Regions from separate parts of the Homo sapiens genome. Here region 1 is linked to region 2. Evidence: fine-mapped expression QTL. A gene starts in region 2. The other region holds a variant in brackets. All regions are shown on one strand. Distances are between the middles of the regions.

Region 1 (2,901 bases), 570 kb after region 2:
GTGTTTTTGTTTTCTTTTTTTTCTTTTTTTGAGACGGAGTCTCGCTCTGTCTCCAGGCTGGAGTGCAGTGGCGCGATCTCGGCTCACTGCAACCTCCGCCTCCCAGGTTCAAGCAATCCTCTAGCCTCAGTCTCCCAAGTAGCTGGGACTACAGGCGCCCACCACCACACCCAGCTAATTTTTGTATTTTTTAGTAGAGACGGGGTTTCACCATATTGGTCAGGGTGGTCTCGAACTCCTGACCTCAGGTGATCCACCGGCCTCGGCCTCCCAAAGTGCGGGGATTACAGGCGTGAGCCACCGCGCCCTACCTCTTTAAAAAAAAAAAAAAAAAAAAAAAAAAAAAAAAAAAAAGATTGTTGAGAGAAATCAGCATGAAATTAATGGACAGGCAGGACTTTGAGCCTCTCCTTGTCACCGTGAATACAAGAAAAAGGAATCTTTGGTGCTGATGTAATAGCTTGAAAAGCAGTGAAGCCGCGGAGGGGTCAGAGCTCTGTAGCTCGGGAAAATGTTATAAAGCACTGCCCAGATTTGCCCAATGTACAGAAACTTCTAGACTCCTCTCAACTCCTCAAGGATAGACACGAGCCTTCTTTACCTCTCTGCCTTGCTCAGATCTCCCTGTAAAGCACTTTGCAAATAGTTGGTACAGACAAAAGCATTTGTTGCTTCAGTGAAAAGCTGACAAGTTTCCTAAAGAATAAATCAGCATGGTGTGTATTAGTTTCGCAAAAAGTTGGCTGAAAACCTCCAAGCTGCAACCTCCCTAGGCCACGTGTACGGCAAAGAAAGCAAAAGTTGGCCGGGCACTGTGGCTCATGCCTGTAATCCCAGCGCCTTAAGAGGCTGAGGCGGGTGGATCGCTTGAGGCCAGGAGTTCGAGACCAGCCTGGCCAACATGGCGAAACCCCGTCTCTACTAAAAATACGAATATTAGCTGGGCATGGTGGTGCATGCCTGTAATCCCAGCACTTTGGGAGGCCGAGGTGGGTGGATCACCTGAGGTCAGGAGTTCGAGACCACCCTGGCCAACACGGCGAAACCCCGTCTCTACTAAAAATGCAAAAATTAGCTGGGCATGGTGGTACACGCCTGTAATCCCAGCACTTTGGGAGGCCAAAGTGGGAGGATCCCTTGAGGCCAGGCGTTTGAGACCAGCCTGGCCAACATCACAAAACCCTATCTCTACTAAAAATACAAAAAATTAGCCAAGTGTGGTGGCGTGCCTGTAATCCCAGCTACTTGGGAGGCTGAGGCATGAGAATCACTTGAACCCGGGAGGCAGAGGTTGAAGTGAGCCCAGATTGCTCCATTGCACTCCGGCCTGGGCGACAGAGTGAGACTGTGTCTCAAAAATCAATAAATATATAAAAATAAAAAAAGAAAGCAAAAGCTGAAGGCTGGATTCATCCTGGGTGAATTACCCATCTCATTATAATGCAAAGTCCATTTTAAACCCAAGTTTCTGGCTGGGC[G/A]CAGTGGCTCATGCCTGTAATCCCAGCACCTTGGGAGGCCAAGGAGGGAGGATCACTTGAGGCCAGGGGTTGAGACCAGCCTGAGCAACATGGCGAGACCCCCATCTCCACAAAAAATAAAAATAATTAGCCAGGGGTGGTGGTGCACGCCTGTGGTTCCAGCTACTTTGGAGGCTGAGGCAGGAAGATCACTTGTCCCCACGAGGTCAAGGCTGAAGTGAACTATGATTGTGCCACTGCACTCCAGCATGGGTGATAGAGCAAGACTTTGTCTCAGGAAAAAATAAATTTTTTTAATTTAAAAAAAGTTTAGAACACCCATATTTCTAAATTGAAATAAATTCTTACTAAGCTGCAAAGTCTGTTTAGAGTTAAAAAAAAATAAGTCAGCCAAAAGAAAATCATTTAGTGCTGGACAGACCAAAAATAAAACCTGCCTGTTTCAATGAATCTTTCTCTTATCACTCAGATGCAATGGAGACAGCCGGTCTCAGACAAGCGAGCGTTTTAATTCAGAGAAAGGCAGAGAGAGAAGGTTCTGGAAGGTCCTTCACACTGCTAATCTCAGAGTAAAAATATCTTCTAGAGTTTTATTATCTTTTTTTCCAAAGACTGGGGGTGGGAGAGAATGAAATACACAGGTAGAAGGAGGGAAGATAGCCCATTTCGAGAAACAAGAGTGGGCATGGAGGTTGACAGGTGACCTTGAGGTGGGAGGAAGCCCTTGACAAGAAGAGGCATCATTTATTTTTTTTTTAAAGCAACGTAGGAGGGTGTTACTGGCCGGGTTTGAGAGATATGTGAGAATGCCCCCAGGCAAACCAAAAAGAAAAGTGTGTAGCTGTAAAACCAAAGAGATCAGTAGGAGGAGACTCGCCCGCCTGCGTGACAGGAAAAAGCTTCGAGAAGAATGGACGTGGGATCTCAGATCTGAACTGCGCACCAAGATACAGGGAAGAAAAAAGAAGGGGCCAGGCACAGTGGCTCACGCCTGTAATCCCAGACTTTGGGAGGTCAAGGCAGGCGGATCACTTGAGGTCAAGAGTTTGAGACCAGCCTGGCCCCCATCTACTAAAAATATAAAATTTAGCCGGGCATGGTGGCGGGCGCCTATAATCCCAGCTTGAACCCGGGAGACGGAGGTTGCAGTGAGCCGAGATCGCACCAAAATCATGAACCATCAGCATTGATGTCTCCAAATTGAGCCTGTGGCTCGACCAGCCTCCAGCCCAACAGACGCCACTCTCTCGGCATCCTCTGGCCCAGGCGGGAGGCAGGAAGTCCGACTCATCCCAACGCGGTGGTGATGGGGTGAGAGTCCCTGTCACCCAGTGAGTCAGTTTGCTTTGGGGTGACCAGTTGTCCTGGCCCTGGTTTGCTCAAGGCTATTCTAGTTTTGTTTTTTTTTTTTCTTGGTTTTGTT
Region 2 (2,901 bases):
AAATTCTGAATACTTTTATTCAGTTGAGCCGCAATTCCTAAAGCCTGGAACGCGACTGCTCATCTCCGAAAAGACTTTCCAGCTTGAGACAGAGTAGAAGTATAAACTCTATATCGCTTGCCATTTTACATACAAACATAATTGTCGTAATTCATGTTTTTACTGTGTCGACCTAAATAACAGGCTGTCTAAAAACGGTGGTAACAGTTCATTGCAGTGGGAATATGCGCGGCATAGCAAACTATGTGCTTATTCAGGGAGGTAAAGGAAGACAAAGGTTGTTTTTGGTTTTCATTTTTTTGAGACGGGGGTCTCTGTTGCCCAGGCTGGAGTACAATGGTGAGATCACAGCTCACTGCAGCCTCAATCCCCACGGGCTCGAGCGATCCTCCTGCTTCAGCCTATCAAGTCGTTGGGACCATAGGCGCACACTCCTTTATTCCCAGCTAATTTTTGTATTTTTTGTATATATGGGGTTTTGCCATGTTGCCCAGACTGGGACAAAGGTTTATAAAGGAAAAAAAAAATTTTAAATGAGGATTACATCATTTTTCAGAAATAATTATCCTTGTCTACAAAGATCAGTAACAAGGGTCACACCAGTCTGAGTGTCCCTGTAAAAGTATTTTTTGTTTAAGCCTGTGGTTTTTGTAGAGTCTTTTTCGTTATTAAGCATATAAATGTGAGACCTCTCTCTTCATGACCTTACGTGGTTCTGTTTGTGGGAGGGCTGCTTTTTTTTTTTTTGAGACTCAGTTTCGCTCTTGTTGCCCAGGCTGGAGTGCAGTGTCCTGATCTTGGCTCACTGCAATCTCCGCCTCCTGGGTTCAAGCGATTCTCCTGCCTCAGCCTCCGGAGTAGCTGGGATTACAGGCGCCCGCCACCGTGCCCAGCTAATTTTTGTATTTTTAGGAGAGAAGTGGTTTTCGCCATTTTGGTCAGGCTGGACTTGAACTCCTGACCTCTGATGATCCGCCGGTCTCCGCCTCTCACGGTGCTGGGATTACCGGCGTGAACCACCGCGCCCGGCCGAGAGTTTTAAGAACACAGGGAGCGCCTGGTGGGGTCCGGCCTCCTGGGGCCTCGTCGTCTGGTCTCCAGATCTCCAGGTCTCTGGACCCCAGGCGTCCGCGCCCACGCGGGACAGCACGGTGACGTCACGCACGCGGGTCCCGCCCCCACGCAGGACTCCGCCCCATGGGACTCCGTGCCCTTCCTCTCCTCCCCGCACGAGGGGCCGCTCCGAGGGGAAACTGAGTCTGGAGTTGCCGTGCAGTCAGGGAGGAGGACGCCGCGCCCTCCCTGGACTGGAGTGAGTTCTCCCAGATCCGCGGCTGCCCGGCTAGAGGGTCAGCCACGCGTGTTCTCGACGAGCCCGTCACTGAGGAGAGAATTATCCAATCAGGACAGGCAGGGGCGGGGCCTAGGGAACTGTCCAATCAGAGACGTTAATCCGAAGCGGAGCCCTGCCCAATCAAGGGCGCTAGGGGGACGGACTGGAGAATTCTCCAATCAGGGGTGCGGAGTCGACAGCACTGTCCAATCAGAGTCTCCACTTCCCGAGATCTGTCCAATCAGACCCCGAGGACGGTAAGCCGAGTTCCCCTCTGCCTTGCGCGCTTCCCCGCCTACCCCGAGCGGCTCAGGTGTCCTGTCGTGCTCACCTGCGCCGGTCGCTGGACCGCGGGGCGCTAACCCTGGAGAGCCCAGGAGCGGGCGGGACATGGTGAGTGCCGGGCGGGAGCCGAGCCCGGGCCCAGGGCGAGGTGGGGCGGCAGGAACCGGCTTCCGCCCGAGTTCGCAGCCGGAGAAAGCTGAGGGACGCGCGGGGCGGCGCACGACGAGCGCCTGGGCCCCGGGGACGTGGTCACAGCGGCCGAGGGGTAGGGCTGGGGGCAGTCTGGGGTGACAGCAAAAGCGGTCAGGGGCTCGAGGGGTAGTTTCTGGGGACAGTACAGGTCAGGAGTTTGGGGAGAGCTTGTGGGGACAGCAGAGGTGGTCAGGGGCTTGAGGCAATTTAAGTGGACAGTAGAGGTTTAAGGGGCACAGGGGCAGTTTGCGGGAACAGACACGGTCAGGGGCTCGGCGGCAGTTTGGGGGTTCAGTGGAAGGGAGTCAGGCTCAAGGGCAGATTAGGGGGCCAATAGCAGCGGTCAGGAACTCGGGGACAGTTTGAGGGGGCCGTAGAGGCGGTCATGGGTTTGAAGGGGCAGTTTTGGGGGACAGGTGATCAGGGGCTCGAAGGCAGTTTAGGGGGACAGTAGCTGCAGTCGGGAGTTTGGGGGCAGCTCGAGGGGACAGCAGAAGCAGTCAGGGGCTCAGGGGCACTTTAAGGGGGGCAGTAGAGGCGATCAGGGGCTTGAGGGAAGTTTGGGGGGACAGTAAAGGGAGTCGGGCTCGAGGGATGTGTTGGGGGACAGTAGAGGCAGTCAGGGGATCGGGGAGAGTGGGAGGAGAGGGCAGGAGCCGTCAGGGGCTTGGTGGTCAGTTTGGGAAGGTCTGCCAAGGAGGAGGTGGTGCCCTGTCCTGGAGCCTGTCAAATAATAAAATCCTGGGCCGGGCGCGGTGGCTCACGCCTGTAATCCCAGCACTTTGGGAGGCCGAGGCGGGCGGATCACCTGAGGTCAGGAGTTCCAGACCAGCCTGGACAACATGGCGAAATCCCGTCTCTACTAAAAATACAAAAATTAGCCCGGCGTGGTGGCGGGCGCCTGCAATCCCAGCTACCAGGGAGGCTGAGACAGGAGAATGGCGTGAACCTGGGAGGTGGAGCTTGCAGTGAGCCGACATGGCGCCGCTGCACTCCAGCCTGGCGACAGAGAAAGACTCCGTCTCAAAAACAAAAACCAAAAAAAAAAAAAAAAAAAAAAATCCTGGCTAGAGAAGGAGAGAGAAAAATAG

What was found. PIP is the estimated chance that this variant, and not a neighbour inherited with it, causes the effect. A credible set is the group of variants that fine-mapping cannot tell apart.
Region 1: its variant is the best candidate, but not a certain one, in a credible set for the expression of ZNF77 in lymphoblastoid cells (GTEx, PIP 0.85).

What each region holds. Positions count from the first base shown.
Region 1 is chr19:2,371,702-2,374,602 of GRCh38, reverse strand. The region is part of intron 1 of TMPRSS9 (transmembrane serine protease 9); the gene reads right to left. Among named protein-coding and RNA genes, the nearest start is that of TMPRSS9, 13 kb to the right of the region's middle. The variant G/A (reference allele first, on the strand shown) is at 1,479.
Region 2 is chr19:2,943,663-2,946,563 of GRCh38, reverse strand. ZNF77 (zinc finger protein 77) reads left to right here and starts at 1,593. Exons shown (of 4, transcript NM_021217.3): 1 at 1,593-1,726. The coding sequence starts at 1,724. RefSeq lists an enhancer at 1,198-1,357 and silencers at 1,428-1,677, 1,818-1,897.